Regions from separate parts of the Homo sapiens genome. Here regions 2 and 3 are each linked to region 1. The links come from fine-mapping of genetic effects on gene expression. A gene starts in region 1. Each other region holds a variant in brackets. All regions are shown on one strand. Distances are between the middles of the regions.

Region 1 (10,793 bases):
CCTATTGCAAGAAAAAAAATTGTTTTAAAACAATAGGTCCTTCCATTTTCCAGGATCTGCAGCACAAGTTCTGAAAATGCAGCCAACACCAGAGTGGCCCAGGAGGTGAGCACGGGGCTCTGAAGCCAGATTTGCCAGAGTTCCAATCACAGCCCCCAGCCATCAGGTGGGTGACACTGGGCCAGTTTCCTACCTCCTCTAAAATCTGTTTCCTTATCTGTATCTGAGAAAAACAATAGTACTTATTTGATAGAGCACTGTGAAGATGAGCTGAGCTTACACACGGAAAGGGCTTAGCCCAGAGCCAGGCACAAAGTAAACTCTCCATAAATCTTAGCTAATATTGTAGTCAAGCCTGAATAAGGACCTCAGGTTTCTTATAACCATAGTTAATCCTTAATTTCCTTTTTCCTAAAGCACACATTTTATTAAAAATAATGTGCTTATGTTTCAAACTAATCTAAGACCAATTAACGCTAGCTTCCAATTATAGATTATGCATTATTTTAAAGCAGAGTATAGATTAGGCAGTAAACACTAACAAAGTAGCTCCAACCCCTATATTAGATCCATTCCCGGAGATCGAAGGAAACCACACAAATCCATACAGAATTTCATCAGATCAGAAGAGCATCTCAATATCTACCTTTCATTCATTTCTTTATGACTTTACAATTTGTTTTGAATAATTGTTTAGCTTCATAAATCCATTTCAGTTTCCTAAAGCCAAGCTGCTTGAATGAGTTGCTACCTTAAAACCTGCACTTGGCTGGCATAATAATGTGAAAGTTACTTTTGCACAGTACTGGGGCTACTTCTAAGGATTTCTGTCAGTAACCTTGGACTGACAGCTACAACACTGTTGACTATGAATTTCTCCTTTTCAAATTAAAGCTAAAGTCAGGAGAAACAATGTATTAAAACAGAACTTGAGAAAATACTGTTGAATCGATAGGGCTGCTGGAAATCACCTAACCCAAACCCCTCAGTTTACAAATGAGGCAAAAAATGTCCGAAAAGATTAAAGGCTTGCCTAAGGACACACTCTGAGCCTGCAGCAGAACAGGACTTAGGCCTCAATTCTCAGATTCAATTCTCAGTGCTCTTTCCTTTATTTCATGCTGCCCTGAGGCATGAACGTGATGGGGCACTCAAAACTGAGGCCAAAGTAAAATGCATGGGAAATACGACTGTATTTTGTTAGGAGTGCATAAAGTCAAACCTGTCTGTTTTTTTACAATTAGTTTTACTAACTTTAATACAACTAAGAACACAAAAAAGTAGAATTTTGCTCAGTTCTGGATGCTGAAATCTAAAAAGGATACAGAAAAACTAAACATCATTTATAGGAAAAAAGCATAACCACTCTGAGCCGGGAATGCTAGGCCTGGAAAGAATTCTGGGTAACAAGGCTGCAGGGTTACCAGACAGAAGGAAGACCCGAAGGAACAGAACTAAAAGCAGGACCCCAGGACACAAATAGTTGGGATTAACAGGCAAAGACTTTTTAGTGGTAAAAATCATGGAGCTGCTGGCATTTTCCATCATTGTCATACACCATGGCCAAATAAGATAGGCATGAGGGGTTATCACAAATGGGGACATTAGGCCAAATGACCTTTAGGTTCCTTCTGGCCCTTGAGGCTTTGTGTTTATCTGGTCACTGCGTATCCTCCTTAAATTCCTGTTTATTTGACATATTTGCCTGAATGCTGCAAAACCCTGTATGCACGCACAGGGACACACAATAACCCCACTACAACAACCAAATTCTAGTTTTTTCCCTCAAACTAGGATGCAAAAAATGCATGTTTAAATTTTTTGAATGGCATGGCTTTAGGTGTGCTTTGCTTTGAGGTGTATGATACACACTACTCTGCAATTAATTTCTGCAGCTTTTTCCTGAAATAAGATGTCAAAATTCAGGATTACAATTTTTTTTTTAAAAAGTCTGTTATTTTAGGTGTATTTTTAGTTGGTATCAAATGCATCAAGATCAAAGTCTACAGCTTTTTCTTCTAATTGGAAACTTAAAATTCCAGGTTATTATTTTTTAAATTAAGTTAAACTTAGGTTTAATTTCTTCCTTTCAAATTGCCTGAGTGTTAGACATGTATTTACAAATTGCCTCTTTTTAACTGTTTTACTTTACTATAACAAATATACTTACTTTAAGTTTCTATTTAAAAATTTTCAAACATGCAGAAAAGCCTACAAAATGGTAAAATGTCGCACACATACTCATCACTAGACTTAACAATGAGTAACAATTTGCCTTATTTGCTTCCTCTATTTTTGGAGGGGTTTAAGGACTTAGGTAAGATGCCTTGACATTTCACCACTAAACATTTCAGTAGGCATCTCTAATAAAATTAGCAAATGTAATGTATTATAATTAATTCCTTAATGTCACCTAATACCTAGTCCATATTCAAAATTTGACAGATACGATTTTGTTTGGTTTGCTACATGGCTTTGAAATTTACAAGTCAGAAACAAGGCTTTAAATTTTTTGTGAGCTAGATATGCAGTGAAAAGCATTGCTAAGAGTTACTCAATAGATTTTACAAATTGTGTTAAACATGGCTTTTGCTTCAAAATGTTTATAAAGCTTTTCCAACTTCCAGAAAAGTTGAAAAAATCATAACCTCTATTTAGTCTTGTTAGCATTTCGCCGTACTGTGTGCAGAATAGATTTTGTTACGAATCACCTGTAAGCAAAGTGAAGATGTAACACTTCAACCCTAAATACTTCAGAAATTTATGACATGCCATTTTTTAACACAATTAAAATATATAAATCTGTGTTTTATTTTTAAATTTGAATTCAGGCAAACTATGTTTGTTAGACTGCAAAACCTATTTTTGAGATAGTATGGATTGACTATAAGGATATTTTAAATGATATGACTGCTTTCAATGATCTGAGAAAGATTTTAAATGGTCAGACTAATATAAATATTAACATTTTCAATGGTATGACATTTAGAAAACATTTTTTAACGTTCTTAGAAATGTATTTTTAGTTGGGTTTAGAAATCTATTTTCAAAAAACTGTGAGTTAGCTAAATGTATCTGTATATACCCTGACATATCTATTTTTCCAAACTGTATACGTTAACTATCCATTTTTAATTATTCTGCTTAGCTTAAATATTTTTTAAAATTGCCTAACTTAGAAAATAATTTTCTAAAGTGGTCTGATTCAGAGATGCACTTTTAAAAAGCTTCCCGTCTCAGATACTAGGTTTTTAAACTGTCTGACTTAATCGGGAAAAAAAAAAAAACCCTCATGTTACCCAAAGGTTCAGGGTATTTTGAACCTTAATGATTAAAAATTGAAAAATAAACAATATGTTTTTCAATTAAAACTGATACCTTAGAAATCTTAATATGAGTTTCAGTAGTTTTTGAGGCAGCACAAAATCAAGTCATTTAAGGAACATGCAGTTCTTATTTAACATTACTGAAGTTCCATTAAGGAATTGAATTCATCCAATTTCTACTCGATTTCTTGGATTATTTCTTCTTCAAAATTAGCGCTAGAATTAGCCTGTTTCTATGCTACCAGACATCTTTACATTTATTTCAATATAATGTAATTCCTTTCCGTTTATAAATGTAAAAAAAACCCTTCAACTTCTTAATTAACTGAAATCTCACACACACTCTGTCCCTAGTTCTAGGCTGTTTGACCTGAGTTTACATGCTTTTATTCCTGAAACCGCTCACACGGCTTAAAATGACTTTTCTATCAGTTATATGGCCAAAGACATTCTCCACCTGTGACTTACAAAAAGGAGAAACTGTCTTTGTAGACATGATAATCATGACATATGGCAAAATTTTCCTGAAGCATTTAGATAAAGCCATAAAGAAAAAAATAAACTGGCAATACAGTCCCTAAGAGGTGAAATGAATGTTCCAAAATTGCCTAATATCAAGTATAACCCCCAAGAATGTGGTCCTGGGATGGCTATTTCCCGCCTGTTCCAACGCTGCTTCTATTCCAACCTAGTCTGCCTACAGCAGGTAGCCTGAACTACAGCCAGTTTCATAACTTCACTTTTCAATTGAAGACATTACAGAGCTAACGATCACTGTCTGGTATAGATCATCCAGACTCGCCCCTTATTTAACAGAGCAGTAAACTGAGGCTCAGAAAGGGAAAAGTAGCCCCCATTAAAAACAAACCCCAAACAGTAATTTTTCCAGGACCACCCTTAAAAAACGCTACTGCTAGGCTAACTAAAGGTTGTGGTTAATTAAAAAAAAAAAGTGCTATTTTACGGGGTTAATTTTCACATATACCTCCTCAGGCTTTTTTTAAAAAGTTCGAATGGAGAGGAAAGCTTAATTTCCTGTCTGGGAAATGGAAAGTGAAGAGGCTAGCACCTTGAGTCTCACAAACGCAAGCCCCCAGGAAGAACAGTGAGGCAATTATTCACAGGGAACAAGGCCACACAGAGGGCTGCGGGGCCGTTAAAAGAAAACGGGCGGAAAAACAAAACAAAACAAAACAACAACACAACTCCCTCCTCTTTGAGGGGAGGGAGTCGTTCATTTTGCAAGGATTTGGGTCTACGATCCGGCGACCCAGCCCTTAGGACCAAACTGAGGCTCATTACTGGGGGGAGGGGAGCTTCAAACAAAACGAAACAAAAAGGCTTCAGAAAGGCCCAATGCTTCCCAATGTTAGCGTTAAAACATATGTAAATTACAGGCGGCCTGTAGCGCAGTGACGCCAAGGCGGGGGGTGCGGGGGGGGGGGTGCTGCGGAAGTGAGGAGAAGACCGGGCAGAGGTGGAGCTGCGGCCTCACAGCACCGCTTCTTCCTCATCCAGGGCTACAGATGCCCCCTGACTCTAGCCAAGAGATCTTATTATTCTTAGTCTTATTATTCTTATCTTCTCTTTTTAAACAGAGAGACAGACAGAGACAGACAAACAGGCAGAGCCGCAGTGCACACGGTCCGTGTGTCGGAGAGGCCGCCAGGAGACTCACCGCAGCAATGCTACGTGAATGCAGAGGGCTGGAGGTGATGTGACTACTCACTTGCTCGGCTAACAGCTGCCGGTTTTGGATGGAATTATTCCGCAACAACAAGAAAGCGTCGGTTAAACGCCTGGTGGCCATGTCTCACCCTTTGCGACCCCCCTCTCAGGGGCCCCCCGCCCACTTATATTCCTGATTTATTCACTTTCTTTCTCGTGGCCCGGCTGGCCCACCCTTTCACGGAAGCTTCTCGACAAGGCCTCAGGCCTCAAGCCAAAAAGATGCAGCTGTGCGCTTCGCCAAGGCGTAGAGACCCCTCCCCAAATAACTACCTAGGCTTTCCAATTGTCTGACTCCCCCTACCCAGGGCAGACTTCGATCTCTAAGCACTTGAATCCCCCCAATCCTTGCGTAGCGATCCAACGTCCCAGAGACCCCACCCCAATCCAACCTTGGATCTACAAGCGTCTAACTCGCCAATCCGGCTCTAGACTGGGAGGCCCTGAAGCCCCCTACTCCCTGAGACCCCCCGGAGGTCTCTGCTCTCTACCCCTAACTTTGGCTCGTAAGCGTCTAGGCCGTGCCCTGAGGTCTGGCTGTGACTCAGTTTCCGCACCAGAGGCCTGGCCTAGGCCCTCTTTGGACAACCGGAGCCAGGCTTGGGGCCTGGACTCGAGGGCGCCTGCAGCTCCCTTCTGGGGACTTGTCTGAACCTGCTGAGGCCCTGCCCGACCTCCTGACCCCTTCCTTTCCTGGACGGCCTGGTCCTCCACTGCCAGCAGGCTGCCGGCCTGCAGGAAGACAGCAGGGCCTGCCTCCCCGGCCTTCTCACTCCTCTTCTCCGGCTCCCTCCATCCCCGGATCTGACTGCAGCTCAGCCCCGGACCGTTTCCGTGCTGTGGTCCCGGGTTCTGGCGTTCCCCCCTGGCCCTCTTCCTGTCCGTCCCTCGCGAGTGCCCCCCTGCGACGCTCGCAAGCCTTGCTCGCAACGTTCCGGGCGCGGGAGCTCCCTGCACTCCTGCCCCGGGGCACGGGAGTGCTCCGCCCTCTCCCGGGGTGCTCCTCGGGCGCCCTGTTTCGCCTCCCCCAACTGGGTCCAGGCACTAGGAGCAGGCCAACGAGCAGGCCTGAGCCTGGGGAGCGTGGCCCCCAGGCTGCAAACCGCTGCCAGGGCCCTTGGTCGCTGAATTAGAGTGGAAGTTGCGCGGCAGGCAAATTTGGGCTCCCCAAGAACTGAAGTTTTGGGCGCGGGGAGTTGGAGCGGGAGAGGAAAAGTTGGAGACGACTGCCTCTGCAGGCCGAGCACGCTCTACTGCAGGCGGCGGCGCTCGCTTTTTTTTTTTTTTTTCCCACTCTGGAAAAAGATGTATCCGACAAACAACCACGAGGAAATAAAAGGAAAAAAAAAAAAAAAAAAGGAACAAGAACTCCAGGCAGCCTGGCCGCGCCGCCGCTGGCAGTCGGGGGTCGTCGGGGGCGCCCGCCCTCCCCAGCTGCCGCTTTCTGTAGGGGGCACTGCAGGGTCGTGGAATCTCAAGTGGAAAAGTTCCCCGAAAACTTTGACACCTCCCACCCCCCTCCCCGCGAAAAAAATCTCTGTTCCCTGCCTGGGCCCTGGCCCTGCGACCCCCGCGCCCCCCCGTGCCCCGGGCCGGGTTTTCCACGGTTGGCCGGGCCCAGGGCGCCCTAAGCACCTCGACTTGCCGCCCCGGGCCAGGTCGGCGGGGTTCGTGCAGGGGCTCCGTGGGGCCGCGTCGGGCAGGGGCCGCCCGGGCCCGAGCACGGCACCCACAAACAGGCTGGCGTCCCGCGACGGAGACCCGGGTCCGGCCCGGAGCCGCCCGGGAGGCTTGAGGCCAAGGGCCTGGCCCAGCGCGCGGCCGGAGCGGGTCGGGGGCGCAGAGCTGTGCGGCGGCGCCTTCCGGGCCCCGGGCCTGTGCAGGGCCGGCTTCCCCTTGCGGGGCGAGGCTGCGGGCCGGGCTGCGGTGCGGGGTTCCAACAAAGGACCGAGGCCCCAGAAGCGGCCCCCACGCGTCCTTTGTTTCTGCGTGGAACAAACTTTACACACGTGTGTGTTTTCCGAGGGTTTCCCGTGTGCTGAGCGCTTGCAAAGCGGAGTCGCGCCCGGGGAGACGCGAAGCCGGTGCCCGCGGCTCACCCAGGGACCCCAGCCAGACAGCGGCACCCGCGGGGCGCGTGCGGGACCCCCAGGCGACCGGGGGAAGCACCGGTAACCGCCCCCCACCCGTGCTTTTTCTCTCACGGAGAATGTTCCCGCGCGTTCGTTGTGCAACTAAAAATTAATGTGAAACATCCATTGAGGCAAATAACAAAATGCATCCAACGAAACCCACATAAAATCGAGAGAGCCGCGAGCAGGGCTGGGCGAGTTCACTGTGAGGACCGGCTCTGGCTTCCGCGCAGCGCGGAGAGCAGGGCGCTCGCCCGGGGACGCTTCGCAGCGGTGGAAGATTCGGGCGACAGGGGACTGGGTCGCCGCGCGGGCCGGGCTGGAGGCTGCAGGGACTTGCTGACAGGCCATCCAAAGACAGAGAGGCCCTGGGGAGGGAAATTCGGGGAGCCCGTGTGCTTAGCGTAGCGCCCCGGGAAATATTTGCCCAATAAGGGAGAGTTTGTCCCCACACTGCGGCAGAACCCCCCTGCGAGCTCTGACCCCAGCAGCACGGCCAAGCCCCCCCAACCCCGCTCCCCCCTTTAGGGGACAGGTATTTGTAAATAACAACTGAGCTGGTCGTCGGTAGGAGAATCAGATTAGAAACATGGTCCCCACTCTCTTCCTATCTCCCCAGCACTCATCACCTCACAAAGCAGGGGGGGACCTGTTTACTTTTCCTGGCGCTCTCCCCCAGGCTAGAACGTGATCTTCTTCCTACGCAGGGACAGTGTTTTATTCATCTTTGTACCCACTGCCATCTCATCTGGCTTGGAACAGGCTCCGGATAAATATTTTTTAAATATGTGCATGAATTAATGAGAGACTCGAGATTTAGTCCCCAAACTCTCTGACCTCCCTCGAGTGACTTTAAGCCTTTAGAGCCCTTATCTGTTAAGAAAAAAAGAAAAAAATGTGGGTTTTTCGTAATCCTCGTAATCCGCGCCCTGTCTACTTCTCTGGGGTTATTGTGAAGATCAAATAAGGTAAGTGAAAACTCTTTGTAAACTACCAGGTGCTGAGCAAATATTATATAGGATGGTTATTCATTCATTCCCTCCGTTCAGGAAGCTTAGCAAAGTAATTCCTGGTCTTGTGTTTCAGCAGATGGTGGTCGCCTTTCCTGGTCAGTCTTAAATATTTATTACAGGACAATCTCATTCTTACATTTAGGAGATCAATCAAGCTTCCATTTCTTTGAGCGAAATGAACACTGCTTGCACACAAATAATGGAAGAAAAATCCTGGTATTCCCAAAACAGCCACCCCAAGCAACCCAAGAGCCTAACAGCGGGGAGGTCAGGAAAATCCAAGAAGTTGGCATAGCAGCCCAAAGGCAGCACCGTGCAGCTCTGACCAGGCCCCAAAGGCAGCACCGTGCAGCTCTGACCAGGCCCCAAAGGCAGCACGGTGCAGCTCTGACCAGGCCCCAAAGGCAGCACCGTGCAGCTCTGACCAGGCCCCAAAGGCAGCACCGTGCAGCTCTGACCAGGCCCCAAAGGCAGCACCGTGCAGCTCTGACCAGGCCCCAAAGGCAGCACCGTGCAGCTCTGACCAGGCCCCAAAGGCAGCACCGTGCAGCTCTGACCAGGCCCCAAAGGCAGCACCGTGCAGCTCTGACCAGGCCCCAAAGGCAGCACGGTGCAGCTCTAAGCAGGCTGTGTTTAGGTATGGGATTGTGTGCCTGAAATAGTGTTAACCAAGAGGGAGCCCAGAGAGGGCATGCACCCCTGGCTCCAGTCACGTCCATGGTCCATGTTCGCCCTGACCCACACTGGAAGGGAGTTGGGGAAGGATGTAAATCATTATATTTGAATGTTCCTTGGCTGTTTTATTTTCCTGTCAAGTGACTTAAGCTTGATTTTTTTTTTTTTTTAAAGCATTCCCCCATGGCCAAGTATGTGTTTCCTTGGAATTGAAATCTAGGTTGATGGTTTTACATTTTAAAAGCTTTCATTGTGACTCATTCTTGGCCTGGGCTAGGATTCGGTAATACTCCTCGGGCTTGGTGAGGCTCCGTGTCCTGTTTCTTGGGCTTCATACCCACTTTCTAACATTCTGCCAACGAATCCAATAAGTCACTTTTGGGGACAAGTGTTTCATTGTTTTCTTGTCATCTCATTCAGTGCAGGAGGAAGCCCCATTGAAGCCAGGCCATGGCTTGGGCAGGTGCAGGTTTTCAAGTACTGAGAGGGGATGGTTAGCTCAACAGGTCAGCAGTGGGACACACACCCTTTGGTGAAAACAATTTAAATGAGATAGGGCTCATGTAAGCCCTTATACAACCTCAGCATAGAGTAAGTGCGCCACAAATGGGCAATATGATTTATTACAGCAGTAGTCTTACTGTTGGAAAGCTCACGTGGGCTCTGCTCTCCCTGGAAGGCATCATAAACTCCAAAGAGAATGGCATGGTATTGAGAACTGAACACTTGGAAATCTAAGCACGTTTCCGAGCTTCTTGTTCTGGACCTTGGGAATCCAGATGTGTCTGCAGTGCACACTCATGTGGAAGAGGGGGCTAAACCATCTCAAAGACACCTTTTAACATTGGTCTTTCTCCCACCTATAGAAAGACAGATGGTTGTTTGCTTATCAAGCAGCAAAAGCCCCCAGGCCTAACATATGTCTCGTCTGCACAGATCTGACAGACAGATTCGGGCCAGGTTCGGGTAACAGGAGTTGTGTGTTCTGTGTCCCCAAATAGTTCCTCAAAACCTTGAGTATTTCCAACAACAGAAAACTCCCTATCTGGGTCTGTCTTCAGCTATGATGCCTCTCCCAAGAAGGGAGACTCTGGAGAGAGGCAACACTTTTGTTTTGTCTGGAGTCCCGTAGCTTTTAATACCAGACAATTCAATACAGTAGGCATTTCTAAAAATCTACCAGTGGCTGTGCCTATCTCTTGCCAGGCACTGCTGAAAGAATGAAACAGCAAAACTCTTGCCTTCAGGGAATTTGCATCTCCACTGTCTCTACCCAAATTCTGGTTCTCATCGTGTACATTTTCCCAGCAGCCTGCTAACAACCACCCGTCTCTTCCCTCCTCATCCTGCAGCCACAGTGACCTTTCCAAAGCATAAATCTGATCATGTCACTGCCTGATTGAGGCCCTGAAACAGCTCCCTCTGGCCCATGCCAGCCGATCTCAAATGACGCTCAGCAGAAAACAGGTGCTCTAAGTTGAACCAAGCTGGGCATCACTAATATTAACTAATGATGGACTTTTCTTGGTTGTCAGAAAAAAAAAAATGAAGCTAATTAATGGAGTAGTCTCCATCTTAAGTGTTTCTCTTCTCGCTTTCTCTTAAACCTTCAGTCCCTGCCACCACTTGGCTGTATTAGAATATAGTATAAGACTAGATCTGATTTATTCCAGAATCATGGATTTCAGTACAATTTTTTTCCCATAGATCAGTATTTCCTGGAGTTCTGCATTTAGGTTTTCTACACTTTCCACATGGCGGAGTGCCCCCTGGGCATTCAAAGCCCTGCCCAACAGGCCCCACCTAAATGGTGAGCTTTTTTCTTTCCAGGACTTGGCTCACAGGCCTTTCTCTGCCTGGTGGGGGTAGTGGCGGGGGATGTGTCTTGCCCCTTCTGCTTGGTGAACCCTTCATTGAAG
Region 2 (10,793 bases), 23 kb after region 1:
GAACATTTCCCATCGCCCATCTGGCAGCCACGTGCTTCTGCCCCGTCACTGTCACTCCCTCTCTGAGTCGAGCTCGCAGTCACTAGGCTGCGAAATGACTGCTGAATACACTATCGATCAAACAGCACATGTTTTGAACATCTATCATGTATATGCCACTGGGTTAAGACCTAGAAAGTATATGGGGCTTTGGGGAGGGGAAGGAGGTTCTTTTAGGAAGGAGGGCAAATGCATGGCACACCTAACCCCACCCTCCCCTCCCATGCTCCTAGCAGACACTGCTAAACCATCACCACATGTGGCGCTTCAGAATGCTGGTTGACAGAGAGCTCTGGGCTGCTCCTCCTTGGGAAGGGCTTTCTGTGATATGGCTCTGGGAGGTAAGGGGCCACCCACTTGACTAGCCAGATGTGCCACAGGGATCCTGGTGATCAATGGTGTAAAAGACATCACAGAGCAATCACCCACATGTCACCCTATTCTGCTATTCTGAGTATTAGAGACCTTTAGGAGGTCATTACAGCAGTGGCGGTGAGAGAATTAGAGGCCTTTGGGAAGACACCCACCCCTCATAATACAAAGAATCTTAAGAGGCAAAGTCACAGATGATGACGGCCAGTTGAGACCATGACAGTAGGCCCAGGCTTTCTGTGGTATGGCGGCTCACCTCCACAAAGGCAACCCTGAAAGACTTCCTGGAGGTGGTGATGTGCCATTGCGTTAGCAGTTTCCCCTCTCCTAGGTGAGACAGTGCCAAATTCCTACTCCTTACCGGAGCCTTCCAGACCTTACCGTTTTCCAGCCAAAGTGGCCTTGGGCGCATGCCTAGAACTGGCCAAGCCCTTCCCCACCTCAAGGACTCTGTTCTCTGGCTGCCTCGGCCAGGAATGGTCTTACCGTAGCTCATTTGATGGCTGGCTCCTTCCTGTCCTTCAAGTCCCCAAGTCCCTTCCTCAGAGAAGCCTTCCAGCCACACTCTCTCCTGTAAGTCTCTGTCCTGGTACCTTGTTCATTTCCTTCATATGTGTCTCTTCTACTAGGATGTGAGCCAGCCTGGCCTGCTCACCATGGTGGGCCTAATATCTAGTGTTAGGCGTATTTAGGTCCTCCACAAATATTTGTCCAAAGAATGAAGAATGAGTGCACCTGCAGTGGTCTCCACGGGAAGTACCGGCCACAAGGCCAGGGCTCTCAGGTCACTATAGAGCAGTACTTTGCGTTAAAAGTATTTTACCGAATCCTGGTTGCTGCTCTGAAGTTGCCCATAACTCTTCCCCTGTGGAAAGCCGCACAGCAACTTGTGTCCCCGGCATGAGCTCATCGGTCCTCTGCGAAGTTACTTCTGCATCTCCCCCGACCCCAATCAGTGGGGGCTCCGCTTTCCCTAGGTAAGCACGGGAGGCAAGGACTGGTGTGGCCAACCCACTGGCTGGTGGCTAGAAAATCATCCACAAATCATGTATCCTTGACATGGAAAAACATACACATCAATGTATTCACTTGGCCCAGGCCCAGTTCTAGAAACCAGAAGTCTGAAATCAAGGTGTGACCACGTTCCCTCCAAAAGCTCTAGGTGAGGATCCTTCTGGCCTTTTCTGGATGGTGCTGGTTCCTGGTATTCCCTGGCTTCTGGCCGCATCACTCCCATCGCTGCTTTGTCCTCACATGGCCCTCTTCCCTATGTGTCTTCTGTCCTCCTCTGTTCTCAGAAGGACACCATCATTGCATTTAGGGCCTACCCTAAAACCAGGATGATTGCGCCTCAAGATCCTTTACTAATGACATCGGCAAAGAACTTATTTCCAAATAAGCTCACTCTGAGGTTCCAGTGGACATGGAATTTGGAGGGACTCCCAGGGTCATCAGGGCGTTGGCTGGCTATGGGCAGATGTCCCTGGGTACCCAGGACTTCCCGCAGGCCCAGAGGACCCCAGAAGAGAGGCCAGCATGGGCAGCCAGACTGCTGCTGTTCAAGTCCTCCTGGTGGTCCTCACGCCTCCAGCCCTGCTCCTCCTTGGCATGGAGCTCCTTCTCAGTGGGGTCTACTTGCGCCCCCTCACTTTCCGGAATAGCTTTAGAGAGGCCACACATTGCATTTCTTTTCTTTTGGGGCCCGGTGAAGATAAGGTCACCTTGGATTCTATCGTCTCCATCACCATCATCAATTTTCGCTTTGTATTTTGCTGTGTATGTGTGTTTTAAAAATTTGTTTTGTTTCTTAAAGTCTCACTAGGGCCAGAGAGTGTCTTTAGGGCCTTGTAACATTTGCTGCAGGCTGACAGAGGATCCATTGTCCACGGGGCTGGGGTCTTCTGGGGAGATGTAGGTCTCCTTTCTCCTGGGGCCTGGGGCTGGTCTCAGCTGCCCTCAAACCAGGCTTTGCTGGGAAGTGGGCTGCAGAGTGGACTCAAAGAGAGTCATAAACCCCAGGCGGGAATGCAGCATGGGTCAGAATGCTTGGGTTAGAATGGAACAATTGACAGCCTGGGAGATCAGCCTTCTCCTCTCATTCCAGGCCTGACTGTCACAGGCCTCAGATGCAGGGACTGTGAGGAGCTCAGCCTGGAGGGTACGCAAGACCAGGCCTCCTTTTCTTCCTGTTAGGGTCAGTGAGCAGGGACAAGTAAACCAAGGCTCTGCCCTCATGGAGCCCCCCATCCATGAGGCCAAAAACATGCTAACAGGAAGCCCTGATACAGGGTGAGGAGGACTGGGGACAAGGGGAGTGGAGGGAGTGGAGAGACCCTGAGCTGGGGTCCAGGGGGCCAGGAGGAAGGCTTCAGAAGGTCCTGGCTTTTCTTGCTCTCCTTTGCCCTGCCCACCCCCACCTCCCTGGTCCAATCCAGGTCATCTGGGCCACTGTGAAGGCCCCCCACTGGACTTCTGGGTTCCCTCCTGTACCCCTAAACATTCTCCACACAGGAACCAGAGGGAGCTTTTATAAAGAAGGTGGAGGCTGATGTGGATGAAGTTATATCAGATCGTCTGACTTGACGTGACCACAGCAAAGTTTCCATCTCTGTATCTCCCTAAATCCACCCAGCTCTCCGACCTCAACCTTCTGTACTGTCTCACCTTATTCCTTAGCCAGTGAGAGGAGTAGCTGGGACACGAGTGAGTTCCAGCCATGATGGGTACGGTTTGCTCTGAGCTCCCCCAGCCCAGCCCACTCCCCTTTGGAGAGCTCCTTCTCTTCTGGCATTTCTCTGACTACTTTGGGGGAGAGGTTGACAAGGATCTCCACCTACAAATCCTCTATTCTGTGAATACGGTATTTGTATTTGTATTCACACACCGCTCTGGAGACCAAACCAACCAACTTCACCTAGACTCGAAGGATCCTTGACACCGACCAAGGGCCTTTGAAGAAAAGACTTCTCACTGAGGGGATACGTGTCTCCCTTCAGTAGGAAACAGAGCTAGAGTTTCCAGCTTGATTCCAGATGGCTTTGGGGAAATTCACAGGTACCATTTTCAAGTGGCTTCAGCAGCACCAGGCACAGTGTCCCACACATGGAGGGTGCTCACTAGCTATTCTTGTATACCAGATAATAATATGAATAACAAGGTAAACACTAGTGGCTCTTTCTTGGGCCCTTGTGAGGTGCCAGTGTCTGTGCTAAGCATTTTGCATGCTAAACACTTTACCTGTAAAGGCAGGACACAGTCCTACCCTCTGACGGTGATGACCAGACGTGTACGGACCATGGGCACAGGAGACGGACATGGGTGGACATTTGCACAGCCCTCTGGAAGCTCACATCGAGTTAGAAAGACAAGATATTGAAAACTGCACTGCTGATAAGGGTTAAACAGCCGTTTGATACAACAATAGAAGAGATACTCAAGGCAGGGCATGACTAATTGCCTGGCAAATCATAGGGATGATAAATGTTTTAGGAACTCAGAGGAGGAAGCCGTTTCTCCAAGCAGGGCAGAACAGACAGACACCAGGGGGGTCACTGTGCCCTTTCAAAGGGGGCCCATAAGGCTGCTCTCTGAGGAGGTCATTGTCACACAGTGGGGGTTGGAAGGGTGCCCTTTGACCGTTTTTTCTTTTTAAGGACTAGGTCAGTATTCAGTCACCCACTTGCCACAGTCTACCCACACTGGAGTCTTCAGGAAACCAGCTAGTTCAGGGAATTGGAGGAAGAGCGAGAGCATGCTCTTTATTTCCTTTCCCACTGTTTCAACCTCTCCAGGACAAGCCTTCCATCTGCAATCTCCCCTCTAGAAAGTGGCACTGGAATTTGGTGTTCACATCATGTGAGAAAAGGCTGAAGACACTGGCTTGGAGTCCCAAAAGCATCTGGGCCATCTCTCCCTTGGCAGATAGATAGGTCCCACATAATTTTACAAAAACATATCATTTTCATGGTGGTGGTAAGACTGATACGTGTTTGGATTTTGCCCGAAATTTCAAGAGGCTAGAGCTGAGAAGTTCCTTTGAAGCTCTCAGAGCCCTGAATTGTGTTCTGTTTGGGTATCTATTAAGAAAACAGCCATTTCATCACGGCTCGTAAAAATTGGTTCATGGATGCCCAAGGCTTTATCTCATTAAATCCTGTCGCTATCTGTAAATGGTGTTCAGGCTGTTTCTCTGTGAGCAAGGTTATCTGACTGTTTAGAAACTCCAACCCTGGATGGTGAGATGCTGCTATCTGCAGATTTGGGAGAGATGACTGGCATTTCCCAAAATGCAAACAATCTCAAAAAGCTCATAGGCCTGGAAGTGCGGCAATGGGGCAGGGGGCAGCTGCTGCCCAGCCCAGTGGGGGCTGCTCTGGGCTCTGGCTGTCCCCAGCAGTGAGAAAGCAGGTGGCTGATGATAAATCACAGGGCTGTCATCTGCAGAGGCTGGCTGGTGACATCACAGCTGGGAAGGGGGCTTCTGGAGCCAGAAGAGGCCCACAGAGAAGTGTGTTGGTGGCTGAATTAGACATAATGGCTCTACACACACTGTGTCTCTCTTTTCCTCTTTCCCCCTCAAATCTGACTCGAATTTCTCATGAACAAACCAACATCTGCAAAAGCACATCCTTGTCGCCAGGGTTAAGAGCAAGTAAGTGATCCTGGAGCCCCTCCCCGCGCTGTGATGCAGTATTAGAAAGTGGCCACCATGGAATCCTGGCCAGTGCAGTGCTAGGGGGCAGTCAAGGGCCAGGCTTTGGGGTCAGAATTCGGGTCAAGTCCGGCCTATACCACTGGACTTCGGACGAGTTACTCAGCCTCTTTGTCTCAGTTTCTCCACAAGTAAAGTGGGCTTGAGATGAGGACAAAGTCAAACAGTGCATCCCAGGGTCTGGACAGGAGCAGCCATGAGTGGGGTGGTGTCTGCAGGATGAGACCCTCACACTCTGGGAGGCTTCAGCCTTGCTGGGACAGCAGGTACTCTTCGACTGAATCCCCTCTAATTTTTGTCCAAACCATCTAAAGATTTGGGCCATGGTGTTCTTTCCCACAGCCCTCCCAAGGACAGGCAGAGGACAGCTGCTAGAGAAGGGAGTGGCATGGGTCAGCTTGCCTAGAAGTCAGAGGGATGCAGGGGGCAGAGATGGGGAAGGCTGAAGTGCCTATGGGCTTCCTTGGTCTGGCCAGGACCTTGGCTTGGCCCCTGAAAATGGCCCAGCAAGAATTTCCAGGCTGGACACGATGGCAAAGCTGAGAGGTAGCAAGAGCCTGGTGTTTACCGCATAGCCAGGAGCAGCAGTGGGAGGCAAGCGGGGGAGGGGAATGGGGTTGGGGAGTCTGTTGTTCTTTTAAATTAAAAATAAGTTCCACATGTTGATGGTCCCCGAGGAACACGGACTCGGCATTGAAGGCCCTGGCAGCCATGTGAAAGCAGGCCCTTGGGAGGACAGGTCTTAGGGAGAACAAGGCACCAAGTATTTCATCAGTTGTCTGAGTCGTTAGAGGAAAACAATATTCCGTGAGTCCCCTGGCACACAACGCCATCAGGACATGAGGCTGGAAGGAAGTAAGAAGAGAGCCTTCCAGAAACCCTAGACAGGATGCTCCTCAGTGATGAGGTTGGGGAGAGAGAGAGAAGTTCCTAGAAACAGGAGCAATAGTGGCTGCTCCACAGCCCCCAAGGCCCTTTGCCCCACTGGCCACCAGTAATGAGACTGGACCTGGTCTCCACAGACACTTTCAGAGGCTGCCCACCCCTTCTCCCCTCCTGCCAGGATAGAGCCCAAACCCCTCATCTGGCCCCCAAAGCCCTTCAATAGGGAAGCAAAAACCACAGTGAGAGGAGCATGGTTCCAGAGCTGACATGCCCAGTAGGACGCCGGCTCCAGGGGCTGCTGGGTGGCCGCTTTCCCTTCAGGGGATCCACTTCTTCAGCCATGTGGGCATCATGGTGGTGAATCCTTCCCATTGAGTCCTTGTCATGAGCACTGAGTGGCAGGACACCCACGGCTTGTAGAATGCTGCCTGGCACATATAAGTCATATAAGTGCTCATTAGCACACAGTAAGTGCTCATTAGCAAAAGCTTCTAGGATTAGCTTTCTAGGCTTTTCTGCACGCCCAGCGATGTCGCATGCACAGGTTGCCTCTGTTGGCAAGTTCATAAAGATATCACAAACCACAT[T/C]CTGAGGATACGCCAGGCAGGGGACAAACACACAACAAACGTCATCTTATGCCATTCCTTTGCAAGGTAGGTCCCCTTTCACTTGCCAGAAAACAGGGTCCAGAAGTGGAAGCGGCTTGAGCAAGGCCACATGGCCAGAAAGCTGTGAAACCAAGATCTGAACCCAAGACTAAATCTTCTTATCCACTTCCCTTTTTCACCTCCTCCTCAAATGACTTTCTCTGCCCCGTCACCACTGCCATACCCATGAGCACCTCCCCCACTCAATTGTCCTGGCCCACTCCAAGGCCAACCCCACCTGGAGCCATCTTGGTTCACTCAACTGGAACTGGGTGTCATTCTTCAGCTCCTCCACTGGCTTTGCCCTCCTCCATCTTGCACTACAGTCTCCTGGAGCTGTGTCTGGCTTCCTTCCAAGAAAAGGACCCCCTGGCAGGTAGCTGGCACCCAACCCATAGTGTTTAGTGGAATTAGGAATCACATGAGTCTCATGGTCTCAGAGGGCCGCACTCTGCTGTTGTCCATGGGTGCCACAGACTCTTCCAGAAGAGCCACTTCCACAGATGCAACAGGCCTTTTGAAGGAGCCCAGTTCTCAGCATGAGCCAGGATGGTCAAGGTGAGAAACCTATGAGCCCACACTTCTCATTTCCTTAGAATTTCTTGGACTCTGTGAAGAGGAAGGAAAGGAAGAAAAAGAGAGGCAAGGAGGAGAAGAAAGAACAAAAGAAAGAGAAAGAAGATGAGGGAGAGCAGACACAAGGGCAAAGACACAGCAGGAGGGAGTGAGAACAAGAGAGTCAAGAGGAAAAGACACAGCGAGAGAGACAAAGCAGCCTCCGACTGCGGACGCGCCAGCAGCTCATGCACCCCCAAGAAACCCGGACCTAACACCAAGCTTCGGTCAGCCTTGAGCTGGGAGCCTGGGGGGCTCTGGCTTGGCTACAGAGGAGAAAATCACCCCAAGTTCTCAGTCAAGGGGGGTACCAAGCCAAGGGGAGCGTGCATGGCAGGGAGGCTCAAGCCAACGTGTGGCCTCCTCACGCAGCACTGCAAGGACGCATGGAGCATTGATTCCCAGCATGGCATTCCCAATCAGAAATAGCCAATACCCAAACCTCTTAAAGCTCCTGCCTCTAATAGCAGCATTTCTTCCACTGTCATCAGTGGTAACACACTGATCTATAAAAGGTTTTAAAAGTGCTACAAATAGCTCCTCCAGTCCCCTGAAGTCAAGCTTATTGGGGGAAATGGCTGACTTGATTGCTCCCTGCACAGTGGCATCTGGATGTGATGAACAGAGTGAGCTCATCTCAGGACTTTTAGGGCAGCCTGGGTACTTCCGGAGTTGGGTGGAGAGCCCCCTGGGCTAGCGGCTGCCTGGCCACTGTCCCTCTGCCCTTCACTTCCTTCCTCTCTGGGGTGGGACAAGGGCGAGGCAAGCAAGGTATCATATTTAAGGTGGCACTCACTCACAAGGGGTGCTGGCACAGGGTTGGACTCTGAAGGTGAGCGCCCCCTTAAATTAGTACCCTGGGCATCTCACTTGAGTGGGAGAGAAGGAACACAGGGCTCTGCCCACATGGCCTCACTTTCCTCATCCATAAAATGGGATCACCTATCCCCATCTTGGCAGCTATTTATTGACCTCGTACATTGCACCAGATACTGTTCCAGGTGCTGGGTTTCCAGAGACAGGAAGTACATCTGCACTCAGAGCTCACAGTCCGGTGGAGCAGGCAGAGGGAGGGAGGGACCCCAGCCAAGCACCACTGTGTTGCATGTGAACTCCAGTTTAATAGGTCCAATGACTGCCAGGTGGCCAGGGATACAGGCTGGTGCCAACATCTGTAAAGCATGTGGGAAGGGTGGGGAAACCGTGTCCCAGCAGTGATAGAAAAATGCAGGGACACCGGCTGAGGGGAAGCCAGTGAGGCCGGGCTGCAGAGGGGGAGGGCAGGGCAGGTCACGCCACCCAGGAAGGTGGGCCTGCCTTGGGTCACACTGAGACGTGCAACTTAGGGGCCCTCTCCGCTGTCACCCTTAAGGCTCACAGCCACTAGGCCACTTCCCAAACAATCTGTGATCTGGACAATTCTGAGCTGTGTCTCATCCAAACCTACCTCTCCCGTGTCACTGGGTGCCTAGTCTCTTGCTAAGTGTTGGCAACACATTTTTACCTACACTAAAGAGTCATTATGCTGCTACTATTTCTTCTAGAAAACATAGGTCCATTTTCAACAGGGCAGGCTTTCTGCCTGCTCTCTCGTCTCCAAAGGAGGCCCCTAATGATGGAGATGTAAGTCTGGTCTGGGCTCAGCCAAGAGCAGAGGACTCACGTTTACCATGCTCTTCCCAGCTCCCTGGCCCTCAAGGATGTTTCCAAACTTGCTCTTCTTTTCCGAGCCGGCCTCCATCCTGCTGGTGGGCACGTTAACACCAGCTGACAGATAACAGGCATGCACGTGGAATCACACCTTCCTGCTTTCTGAGGATGGACAAGAGTCTGGGGCTGGTGCTCCATGACATCTTCCTCTAGAAGCTTCTGGGCCGCATCTAGAAGAACAACCCATCAGGAGGAGAGAATCAAGATCCACCCTCCCGATCACAGCCTACAGGTTCATCTCTGCAAGCGCACCTCTCACCGCCTCCCCCTGCTCTCCAGCCCTGCCGACCTCCCTAGAATATGGAAGCACGTTCCTGCCCCAGGGCCTCGGCTCGGGCTGCTCCCTCTGCTCAGATGCCCTCTTTCAGCAGCTCTCCCAGTTGCTCTTTCTTGCACCATTGCACCTACTTTTCTGCCTTGCTGTTCACACGAGCCTTCACTCAGCATGCATCTGCTGAGTGCTTACTGTATGCAAGCCCTGTACTCAACACAGAGACGCAGCAAGATCAGCATGGCTCTGACCATATGGGGTTTGATTCAGTACACAAATAAGCGTGGATGGTCATTCCAGGCAGTCCTAGTAGCTCTGAAAACACATGAAGCACGGCCCCTTGATGTCGGCTCTGCTTCTTCTTATTTGTCTGTTTCTGTTTGCTGTCTGCCCTCCCCCTGGACCGTCAGCTTCATGAGGTCGGGGGTTGGTGCTGCCATTTTCTCTCTAGAAGCTTCTGGACCATGCCCAGAAGAGCAACCCATTGTGGAGGGTGGCTGCCCCTGGTGGGGATGGGGGCAACTTTTCCCATGAAGAGCCTCCCAGAGTCTCAGGCCTCAAGCAAGGCCAGAGAGGCCCCACTGCCCGCATCTGGGGGACACCCCAGAGACATGGACTGGAAATGGTTCGAGCCTGGCCCACAGCCCACGGAGCTTCTGAGAAGAGCAGTGCTGGGAGCACATCTGTCTGCCCTCGGACCCCCGGGTTCCAGCTGGGCACAGCGTCCACTGGCTCTTCAATCCCTTTCCCATCGTCCTCAAGGAGAGGAGAGTTTAATTCCACAACGGCCCGAAGCATAGGTGTGGGTGACTCAGAGCGGGCGGATGAGAACAGGAGGCCAGCAGGGATTCCGGCTGAGTGCGGCCCCCGCAGCCTCCGGCTCAGCCAGTGACTCACTCCAGACACTGCGTGAGTCAGCGGCTCTGCGGCTCTGGCCAGCTCTGACGCCCTCCGCACACTAATGAGACCCCAGCAGGACAGAGTACATGGAGGATGGGGCGCTCAGGCAGAGGGCACGGGAGGGCACACACCCCCCAAATGCACACACGTGTGTGCACACAGTTCACACAATCACACGCTATCACACACACTCGTACACAGGTGCACACACACACTTTCCAGTGCACACATGCATGTGCACACAGTATACACACACATCACACGCTATCACACACACTCGTACACACATGTGCACACACACCCTCCAATGTACATACTCATGCGCATGGTTCACACACACTTCACACACACTATCACACTCACTTGTACACAGGTGCACACACACACCCTCCAATGCACACACTCATGCACACAGTTCACACACACTTCACACACTATCCCACGCACTGGTACATACACACATGCACACACACCCTCCAATACACACACACGTGCACACAGTATACACACATCACACACTATCTCACACACTCATACACATGTGCACACACCCCCTCCAATGCACACGCATTACACACAGTTCACACACACTTACACCCACCCATATACACACATCACACACACTCATACACACATTCACATC
Region 3 (10,793 bases), 33 kb before region 1:
AATTATTCCACTTCAAATGCCTGCCAATTTCCTCAAGATTCAGCTTGTGACAGATACAAATACATTCCAGGAAAGTACTTTCCCTTTTTCACTGCTGACTTTACAGACTTTAACATAAATAAGACAGGCAGCACTTTGTTTAGATAAATTTTTATGAAGGTATTAATCCATGGCTTACTATATATTTCACTGTCAATGAAAAATTCAACTCTATTTAATTTTCCTTAAAAAATGAAAGTTTAAAACAAATTACCAGATCTTTAATGCAACCCAAAAATCAACTTATGTTTTTGATGGCTTGAAACCTATTCCACATTCAATTGGATGTTCAGACTTTGCTCCAAAGTTGAAGAAAAGATTAAAAACTTCTGGGACAAATCAGAATAAAGCTCCTAGAACTTACTAGGATGTTTTTTGGTACAGTTCACATTCTAGGACACATTTCTGAAATCCTATCTTGTAAGATGGCTCTAGGTGTTTGAAATCTACATTTATATGTTAATTTCATGTCAGACTTCACCCCTATAAAACCTAATGCCTGCTTAGACTCAGCTGATTGCCACGAGGCTCTCAGATTCCATTATATCCGATACTTCAAAGAAACATTTCCTCGGTGCATCTGCTTCGTATTTTCTAGCATTTTCATTCATTCATTCATTTGACATACATTTGTTGAACATCAGTTCTGAAAAGCTACAGGACCCGTGAGGCTTTGGGGACGCAATAGCGTGTGTGTGTGTGTGTGTGTTTGTGCATGTGCACGCATATGTGTGTGTGGCCAGGAGGAGGAAGGGGAAGCAAGTAGAACAGTAAAATCCAGAGATCCAGTCACTGGGAGAAGATTGAGTTAGGGAAGGCCCCTTGGACTACGATGAGACTTTTGAGTTGGGCCTGGAGGGATCGGTTAAAGTGTGTCAGGCAGTCTGATCCCTGACCAAGGAATTGTTCATGCAAAGGCCTGAAGTAGTAAAGGACATGGTTCATTCTGGCACTGTCAAAAGCTCATGTGGAACCAGGCCCCGTGGCTCAGGCCTGTAATCCCAACACTTTGGGAGGCTGAGGCAGGTGGATCACTTGAGGCCAGGAGTTTGAGACCAGCCTGGCCAACATGGTGAAAACCCATCTCTACTAAAACTACAAAAATAAGCTGGGCATGGTGGTGCATGCCTGTAATCCCAGCTACTCGGGAGGCTGAGGCATGAGAATCACTTGAACCTGGGAAGCGGAAGTTGCAGTGAGCCGAGATCACGCCACTGCACTCCAATCTGCAGGACAGAGACTCTGTCTCTACAAAAAAAAAAGAAAGAAAAAGAAAAGCTCCTGTGCCAGATATAAAGTGCGCATAAAATATATACTGACCTTGCAGGTTGTACTTGACCTTGCAAGTAACTGGAGACCAGTGGAAGTGCCTCAGGCAGGCCTGAAGTGGAAGCAAGGAAGGGCTCCTTCCTGCTTCAGAATGACCTGCTCGTGAGCCCAGAGGAAGCAGAGGCAGGCTCAGCTCCAAGGACCTCCCTGAGCAGCTGGCTGAGAAGTGAGCCCACAACCAGTGAAAACTGTGACAGCTGCACGACCGCCTTGAATGCTGCCCTGCGTTGTGGATGTTTGTGCTGTCCCTTGCTGCAACCTGAGTGCCTGCACAGCAGGGAGGGCCTCCGTTGCCTTTTGCAACTGGCACCAGACATGCCACCTAGATTTGCACTAAATGTTCCCTGAAGGGAGGAAAGAGAACTCGTTGCCATGAAAACACATTTCTCTAGAAACTTTTTTGAAAAGTTCATTAACTTTTGGAAAAGATGAAAAACTAGTATAATGAACACTTGTATACCCTTCACCTAGATTCATACATATATATACAGATACACACACACACACACCACACACACACCACACACACATACACGCACACACCACACACACATACACACACACCACACACACACACACCACACACACCACACACACACATACACATATATACGCACATACACACATGTATACACACACAGACACACACATACACACAAACACACACATAGACACACACACACATAGACACACACACACACATATATACACACATACAGGCACACCTCGGAGATATTCTGGGTTCAGTTCCAGACCGCCACAGTAAAGTGAGGTATGCCTCTATATACACAAACATGCGTATATGTGTATGTGTGTGTATGTATATATGTATATGTATATGTGTATATGTATATGTATGTATGTACACATATTTTTCCCTGTACCATTTAAAGTAAGTTGTATACACCCCTACCTCATTGTGTATCTCTTAAGAACAAGGACACCAGCCGGGCGTGGTGGCTCACGCCTGTAATCCCAGCACTTTGGGAGGCCAAGACGGGCAGATCTCCTGAGGTCAGGAGTTCAAGACCAGCCTGGCCAACATGGCAAAAACCCGTCTCTACTAAAAACACAAAAATCAGCCAGGCGTGGTGGCATGCACCTGTAATCCCAGCTACTCGGGAGGCTGAGACAGAAGAATCGCTTGAACCTGGGAGGCGCAGGTTGCAGTGAGCCGAGATTGCGCCATTGCACTCCAGCCTGGGCAACAGGAGTGAAACTCCATCTCAGAAAAAAAAAAAAAAAAAAAAAAGGAATTAAACTACCATCAGAGTGAACAGGCAACCTACAAAATGGGAGAAAATTTTCGCAACCTACTCATCCGACAAAGGGCTAATATCCAGAATCTACAATGAACTCAAACAAATTTACAAGAAAAAAACAAACAACCCCATCAAAAAGTGGGTGAAGGACATGAACAGACACTTCTCAAAAGAAGACATTTATGCAGCCAAAAAACGCATGAAAAAATGCTCATCATCACTGGCCATCAGAGAAATGCAAATCAAAACCACAATGAGATACCATCTCACACCAGTTAGAATGGCAATCATTAAAAAGTCAGGAAACAACAGGTGCTGGAGAGGATGTGGAGAAATAGGAACACTTTTACACTGTTGGTGGGACTGTAAACTAGTTCAACCATTGTGGAAGTCAGTGTGGCGATTCCTCAGGGATCTGGAACTGGAAATACCATTTGACCCAGCCATCCCATTACTGGGTATATACCCAAAGGACTATAAATCATGCTGCTATAAAGACACATGCACACGTATGTTTATGGCGCCATTATTCACAATAGCAAAGACTTGGAACCAACCCAAATGTCCAACAATGATAGACTGGATTAAGAAAATGTGGCACATATACACCATGGAATACTATGCAGCCATAAAAAATGATGAGTTCATGTCCTTTGTAGGGACATGGATGAAATTGGAAATCATCATTCTCAGTAAACTATCGCAAGAACAAAAAACCAAACACCGCATATTCTCACTCATAGGTGGGAATTGAACAATGAGATCACACGGACACAGGAAGGGGAATATCACACTCTGGGGACGGTTGTGGGGTGGCGGGAGGGGGGAGGGATAGCATTGGGAGATATACCTAATGCTAGATGACGAGTTAGTGGGTGCAGCGCACCAGCATGGCACATGTATACATATGTAACTAACCTGCACAATGTGCGCATGTACCCTAAAACTTAAAGTATAAAAAAAAAAAAAAAGAACAAGGACACCAGCCAACATAATCATGATCATATGCTGATCATACCCATGAAATTTAACATTGAAACAATACTATTATCCAGTATACAGTCTGCAATGAAACTTTAATCGTCCCCTTGTCCTTCATGGCTTTTTCTTTTTAAATCCAGAATCCAAATAAGGCATTGCGTTTGGCTGTGAAGCCTCTCTGGCCTCCTTTAATCCAGAACAGTCCTTACCCTTGTCTTTCATGCACTGGTATATCCTACAGAAGCTCTCACCATCTGGATTCGTCTGTTTTCTTAGATTTGGGTTGAACGTTTTTGGCAAAAATACGGGTTATGGTTCCCATCGAACCTCATCAGGAGGCACATAAACTAAGTGTCCCCCATCATTGGGCAAGTGGGGTCTGCCAGATCTCTTCATGGTAAAAGTGCATTTCCCCCTTTTATAATTAATTGAATTATAATTTCCTCTTTAGAATCCATGGAGTGACACTTTGAGACTAAGAACCGTCTGGGTCTCAACCATCTATTCCTGAATGTCTTTGGTATCCAGTGATGATTTCTGCCTGAATCAAGTATTGGTTGAGTGACTTTCCAGCTCTATCCTCCCTTCTACACTTACTACCTGGTGTTCTTCAGCAAAGACCTCCCCCTCCCCAGGGCTGGCAGCATGATTTGTGGAGTCCAGTGCAAAACGAAAACGC[A/G]GCGCCTCTCTTTCAAAAAGCAATTTCAAGATGGCAACAGCTGAGCACTAAACTAGGCACAGGGCCCATGTGGCTATGGTGGCTGCACATCCTTGAAGCCAGCCCTGCCACAGCCCATACGTGTGTGCATCTCATCAAACGTCACTGCTCCCAAGTGTCCCCACTTAGGCCAATGAGAGCTGCATCAGGCAGGCTCCTTTTTGATGTGTTCTTATCCATTTTCAAGGACTTTGTCCTTCCTGGAACAGTAAGATGATCACAGGCTCACTTTGTTCCTTCCTTGACCCAAATCCAGAGTCAGCCATTTCTCCGAGAAACCCTAGCTCCATTCAGTGAGGGGAATGGTTGGTTAGAGCCAACAGCTTCAGAGTTAGAGACCAAGCTCTTGTGCTGGGCATGCTCCCTGCCACTTGGGCGTCATTGCTCCTGGTCCTCTTGGATCTGTTAAGATCAGGTTTTCTTTAACATCATGAGTTGATACTGATTCCTCCCATTCAAATCCACGTGACAGGGCTTTTCCTCACCTGCCCATCTTCCATAATCGCATCTCCCTCTGCCACAGTGAGGACCCTGGTTCCCAGCCCCTCCTAGGGTTTCTCACTCTGTTTCCCACAACACTCACCAATAGCCTCCGCTCCCGACAACAAACCCACAACACAGAGTTCAAGATGTTTTAACTTTTTGTTCCTAAGAGTATATTCCAGGGATATATTCCACATATACTTGATTTTTGTGCAGCTTACTGATTTGATGTACATTTAGGTTCATAAATCTGTGCTTCACAGAAAGGTTTGCCATTTTCCTTTTTTCTACATTTTCTTTTTTGACGACGTATAACATTTTGTATCATTCAAGTCACACCTATAAAAAGGAAATGTTCAAAGATCTCCCCATCCTGCCCTTCCCCCCTTTTCTCAGTCATCCTTCATAGGTAGCATTTTTTACCCCCACAGGTAACCTTTTTTTACCCCCATAGGTAACCATTTGTATTAGCTTTTATCTTTCATGATTCTATTTGAAAAAAATAAGATTATTCATGGATCTTAAACAAAAGGTAGCATACTACATGCCATCTTTTGCACTTTGCTTGACAAGCACATTTGGTAGCCTCATCTGCATGTACTGTGTCTATACTTTCTGGGATCAGTGGGATGAGAGAATGTGTTAATAAAAATGTACCAGCAGAATCATTTATTAACAACAAAAAACGTCTCTTCTAGCATCAGTTTTTAGGACCTCTCGATAAAATGAGGGGGCTGGGGCCAGGCATGGTGGCTCACGCCTGTAATCCCAGCACTTTGGGAGGCTGAAGCGGGCAGATCACCTGAGGTCGGAAGTTCAAAACCAGCCTGACCAACACAGAGAAACCCTGTCTCTACTACAAATACGAAAAGCCAGGCATGGTGGCACATGCCTGTAGTCCCAGCTACTTGGGAGGTTGGGGCAGGAGAATCGCTTGAACCTGGGGGACGGAGGTTGCAGTGAGCCGAGATCATGCCATTGCACTCCAGCCTGGACGACAGAGCAAGACTCCATCTCAAAAAGAAAGAAAGAAAAAAAAAATGAGCGGGCTGAACTAGTTGCTCTCCGAGGTCCCTTGCCATTCTAGCAGCCTAAATTATCCTCCCAGGAAGGGCACAGTGTAATACAGCAATAACCTTCATGTCTCAGGAACTAAACTCTATTTACTTCTGAACACCAGCAAAATTATTTTTGTAGTTGCAAAAGTTTTCAAGGACATGTTGAAGACCTGGAGCCTTTGGATAGGGAGGCTGCGAGAAGGAAAAGAGAAATAATTAACAGACCAAATGGGGTTCCGCATTCCTTTAAGCAAACTCAGTACAAGAAAATGGAGACTTATAGAAAAGCAAAATTAGGAGCTAAATGTTTATTTTGATCAAGGAATCTTTTGTTAGGAAAACCTTCACTTATAGGATCCTTTTAAATAGTATGTTTCTCTAGAGCATTGAAAATGATTCAATCTTCAAAAACCTGAGTCACCTTTTTTCCAGAAACACCCTTGTGTTTATTATACATCTATCTGTAGTATCTGAATGTAGATCTTTTAAAAAGTAAAAAGAATTGACCTGGCGTGGTGGCTCACGCCTGTAATCCCAGCACTTTGGGAGGCCGAGGCTGGTGGATCACCTGAGGTCAGGAGTTCAAAATTAGCCTGACCAACATGGTGAAACTCCATCTCTACTAAAAATACAAAAATTAGCCGGGCGTGTATTTTTAGTAGGGATGGGGTTTCACCATGTTGGGAAGGCTGGTCTCGAACTCCTGACCTCAGGTGATCTGCCCATCTCAGCCTCCCAAAGTGCTGGGATTACAGGTGTGAGCCATTGCACCCAGCCGAAGTCTTTTTCTTTCTTTTCTTTTTTTTTTTTTTTTTTTTTTTGGAGACGGAGTCTGGCTCTGTCGCCCAGGCTGGAGTGCAGTGTTGCAATCTCCACCTCCCTGGTTCACGCCATTCTCCTGCCTCAGCCTCCTTAGTAGCTGGGACTACAGGCGCCCGCCACCATGCCTGGCTAATTTTTTGTATTTTTAGTAGAGACAGGGTTTCACCACGTTAGCCAGGATGGTCTCGATCTCCTGACCTCGTGATCCGCCTGCCTCTGCCTCCCAAAGTGCTGGGATTACAGGCATGAGCCACTGTGCCCGGCCGAAGTCTTTTTCTTAATGCACTATGAATACACAGTAAATACACACTATAAAGTACTATTTTTAAAACAGGATTTATTTGTTACATTATAAACTCAGCAGCACACAAAACCAAGTAGTGAATACATCTTTTTCCCCCCTTTTAAATGAGAGGCAACTTTTCATCTCCCAGTGCTCTTGGGGCCACAGAAAAGGGGGCCAGGTAGATGGAAGGACTCAGCACTCTGGGGTGGGGGGTGCTTCGGGGATCTAAGTGGAAGAGGTGATAGGGCCGGCGGTCAGCTCAGGGACTCCCCCAGTTGGGGTCCAGGGTCTGCTGGTGTATCTGTACCACTGCTGGGACTTTGGTAGTTCAGTGTTGTGCACATACAAAATGTATGCCTCTGTGAGGCACACGATGTAAGTGCTGAAGTTCTGTGCAAATTTATTAGCACGAACTGAAGGTACTGTCATTGTTTAACTCATCCGACCTTTTAAATGGATAACCAACCTTGAGGCTTAATTGGATTTAAAAAAAAAAAATCAATTTCTAGCCATTGCATAGTGTTAAAATGAAGTGCTGCATTCTCAGGCAATTGTAAAATCAGTTTTGCTCAGGACTATTTTTTATTATTTACCACTTTAAAATGACATTATCCATCTTGATAAGCATTTTATGTACACACATACCTTTCATAAACAACCACAAACGTACACGTACGTACACTGACTCACGTCACAAAAGAATCATTATTTTCTGTTGAGCAGCAGGCTGATTCATCAGCAGCAATCTCTTCACACCAATTACACAAAAAACTGAGCTGGGGATAATGACATACCACTGCTTGCAAATCTCTCAGCCTCAGCCAGTCTCATCTTTGTAATAAGAAAAAAATCCTTGAGGAAGCTTTTTACCAAATCGCATCTTGACCATTAAATCTTTCTTGAAGAAGGTCATTTAATTTTATGGAAAGAAATGAAAAATTAAAATGGCATAAGCAGAAATAGTCCTGATCTGGAAATCAGAAAACTGACGATTCTAGTTCTAGTCCTGTGGCCTTGGCAAGAGGGAAACTTGGGTCTCAGTTTCCCCCTCTGGAAAAGGGGGATGTTGGGATGGGGGGCGTTGTTCTCATTCCCCCACCGTTGATGAAAATGGAGGTCTATTATGGTGTTGTGCGTCAGAACACCAAGTTAAAACACGGACACACACACACACACACACACACAGAGACACACAAAACATTTGATCCTTCAGCACTTCCTCTGAGAAAAAGAGACCAAATGATGCATACGAGGGTCTTCTGCCTCCATTACAACATGTAATCATTTGGATGATTAGCTAAAAGCAATTATAGAATTATAGTTGACAAATTGAAAACGCTAAGCCCAGTGGTCTCTTGCAACTGAGCCTCATTTAAATGTGCATTGTGTTGAATGGAGCCTCATTTAAATGGTCCATCTTAGCCAGGTTACGGAACTGAAGTGGAGAACCACACAGTTACCCCGAGCATTCAGGACAATCCACAGAGCTAATTTGGACAATTGGACAAATGATTATTTTCTTTTGCCTCAACTGACCAGATAATTGTACACAAGTCTCTGCCATTTGACTCCATGGAATGTCTCTTTGTGTAGTAAGAAAGCCTGGCCATAGACTGGTACCATGACGTCTGCCCGAGGGTGGCATGGAGTTGGGGACAAGACACACGCAGCTGACACCCACCATCTAACTCCGAGTCCTAAATCAGAAGCACTTTCATACGTGCTAAAAGTCTCTGCTTGCACCCAGGGTTCTCATTAGTTCCTTCTAATACCCATCACTTGGGAGGAGGTTGTTTTCAAAACAGAATTAAAACCATCAGGCAGCAAGGTTAGAAGTGGCATCTGGGTGGTCAAGAAAATTAGTGTTTTTTTTTTTTTTGAGACGGAGTCTTGCTCTGTTGCCCAGGCTGGAGTGCAGTGGTGCAATCTTGGCTCACTGCAAGCTCCGCCTCCAGGGTTCACGCCATTCTCCTGCCTCAGCCTCCCGAGCAGCTGGGACTACAGGTGCCTGCCATAACGGCCTGCTAATTTTTTGTATTTTTAGTAGAGATGGGATTTCACCGCATTAGCCAGGATGGCTTGATCTCCTGACCTCGTGATCTGCCTGCCTCGGCCTCCCAAAGTGCTGGGATTACAGGTGTGAGCCACCACGCCCGGCTTTTTTTTTTTTTTAGACGGAGTCTCGCTCTGTTGCCCAGGCTAGAGTGCAGTGGCACAATCTCGGCTTACTGCAACCTCTGCCTCCTGGGTTCAAGCAATTCTCCTGCCTCAGCCTCCCTGGTAGCTGGGTTTACAGGCGTGTGCCACCACACCCAGCTAATTTTTATATTTTAGTAGAGACGGGGTTTCACTATGTTGGCCAGGCTGGTCTCAAACTCCTGACCTCAAGCGATCCACCTGCCTTGGCCTCCCAAAGTGCTGGGATTATAGGCATGAGCCACTGCACCCGGCCAAGAAAATTAGTTTTTAAGAGCTAATATACGCCAAGATATACAATTCTAGGCATGCATTTATGTGCATGCACAGTGCTAGGTTCTGAAATGTAGTTCATGTTGGATGAACCAGGCCTGCCTACCTAAATCTTAGAAGGAATGGAAACTTACCATAACTAATCGATGAATTAGAACCACAGAGAAGCAGGAAGTCTTTGTGATGAGCTGTCTTCTCTACACCCAACTAGGGACATCCCTTCTGTGAAAAGATCTCTCCACATGGTCCCACATGGCTTGACTAGAGTAAGGGATGCTGATCACAATTAAGGCCCCATGTAGAATGACATGCTATCCTATTAGATTTAGATAGAAATGGTGCTAGGCTAGGTAAATTTTGTTGTGGCTACGTAACTATGGCAGACGGACCAGGAAGGATTCTAGATTGCTCAAACGTTGGATCAGGATCAGACTTCTTATAGGATGGTTGCTAAATTTCACAGAGGAAATCCATATCCAGCCTGTTTACCTGCTGTCAAAGTGAGCATTCAAAGGGACACCCCAGTGGCTCCCCACTTCCAGGCCTCTTGGCAAGTCATGCCTCCAAGTCATTGGTGGCATCCTGCAGCTCTCCACTGACAGCAATGCTTCTGCAGACTGCGTCTGCATACTCTTGTAGTGCTGGTTCAAGACTGGGCCACCAAAGACTCAGCTGAGAACATAACCCAAGAGGTCACCAAAGAGGTGTTGCCGCCTTTATGTGGTCCCCTTCGGGATGGAGGATTTCTTCAATGTTATTAAATAGCATTGCCGGTCAGAATATTCTTGAACCCTATGGCAAACGTCTCTCCCTCGAGAGTGGATTTGATTCTTGGACAGAGCCAGTGGCCAACATGCGAGTTGGGGAAATGTAATTTCTTAACAAAAAACACGGTGAGAGTGCAAGAGGAGGAGGTTGTTTCTTTTGTGTGGTTTGTTGACAGGCTCTGAAGGGTTCTGCTGTTGAGTCGCCGCAACACCTCAGGACCAAACGCCAAGGGTGCCAAAGAGACCTGGCATGACAGCTGCTATTTTTTGTTTGTATAGGTTCTGGTGATGAAACCACATACCCCTACCATCACTCAGGTCCACATCTCCCACCAGCAAAACAAATGCATCAAAGTCAAGTTTCAGGACAAAGGTCCTCCTCGGAGGACCCCAGGACAGGCACAATCAAGGGGAAACATAGTCTTGGCTTTGAGTTAAACTGGCAGACACTTGTCTCTCAAGTTTTTGGTGTAACAGAGTAGGAAACAAAATCATTTAGAAAGTCAAGTCTCTTACAGCCTGTGTGTAAGAATTGCTTCTCAACAAGGCACATCACAGTTTTATTTGGAGATTTCCAAA

Evidence for each region.
Region 2: its variant is fine-mapped to the expression of STX16 in whole blood (INTERVAL, PIP 0.97).
Region 3: its variant is fine-mapped to the expression of STX16 in whole blood (TOPMed, PIP 0.91).

Annotation. Positions count from the first base shown.
Region 1 is chr20:58,646,350-58,657,142 of GRCh38, reverse strand. STX16 (syntaxin 16) reads right to left here and starts at 5,860. Exons shown (of 9, transcript NM_001001433.3): 1 at 5,005-5,860. The coding sequence starts at 5,136. STX16-NPEPL1 (STX16-NPEPL1 readthrough (NMD candidate)) reads right to left here and starts at 5,890. Exons shown (of 23, transcript NR_037945.1): 1 at 5,005-5,890. It overlaps LOC107985410 (a long non-coding RNA gene), which reads left to right and starts at 7,508. Exons shown (of 3, transcript XR_005647058.2): 1 at 7,508-8,154. RefSeq lists enhancers at 4,491-4,994, 4,832-5,101, 8,131-8,668 and silencers at 6,598-6,957, 9,356-9,650.
Region 2 is chr20:58,623,393-58,634,185 of GRCh38, reverse strand. No RefSeq gene overlaps it. Among named protein-coding and RNA genes, the nearest start is that of LINC01711, 6.0 kb to the left of the region's middle. RefSeq lists an enhancer at 9,979-10,273. The variant T/C (reference allele first, on the strand shown) is at 6,595.
Region 3 is chr20:58,679,778-58,690,570 of GRCh38, reverse strand. The region is part of intron 8 of STX16-NPEPL1 (STX16-NPEPL1 readthrough (NMD candidate)); the gene reads right to left. It also overlaps a transcript of NPEPL1 not described here. Among named protein-coding and RNA genes, the nearest start is that of NPEPL1, 7.6 kb to the left of the region's middle. The variant A/G (reference allele first, on the strand shown) is at 4,291.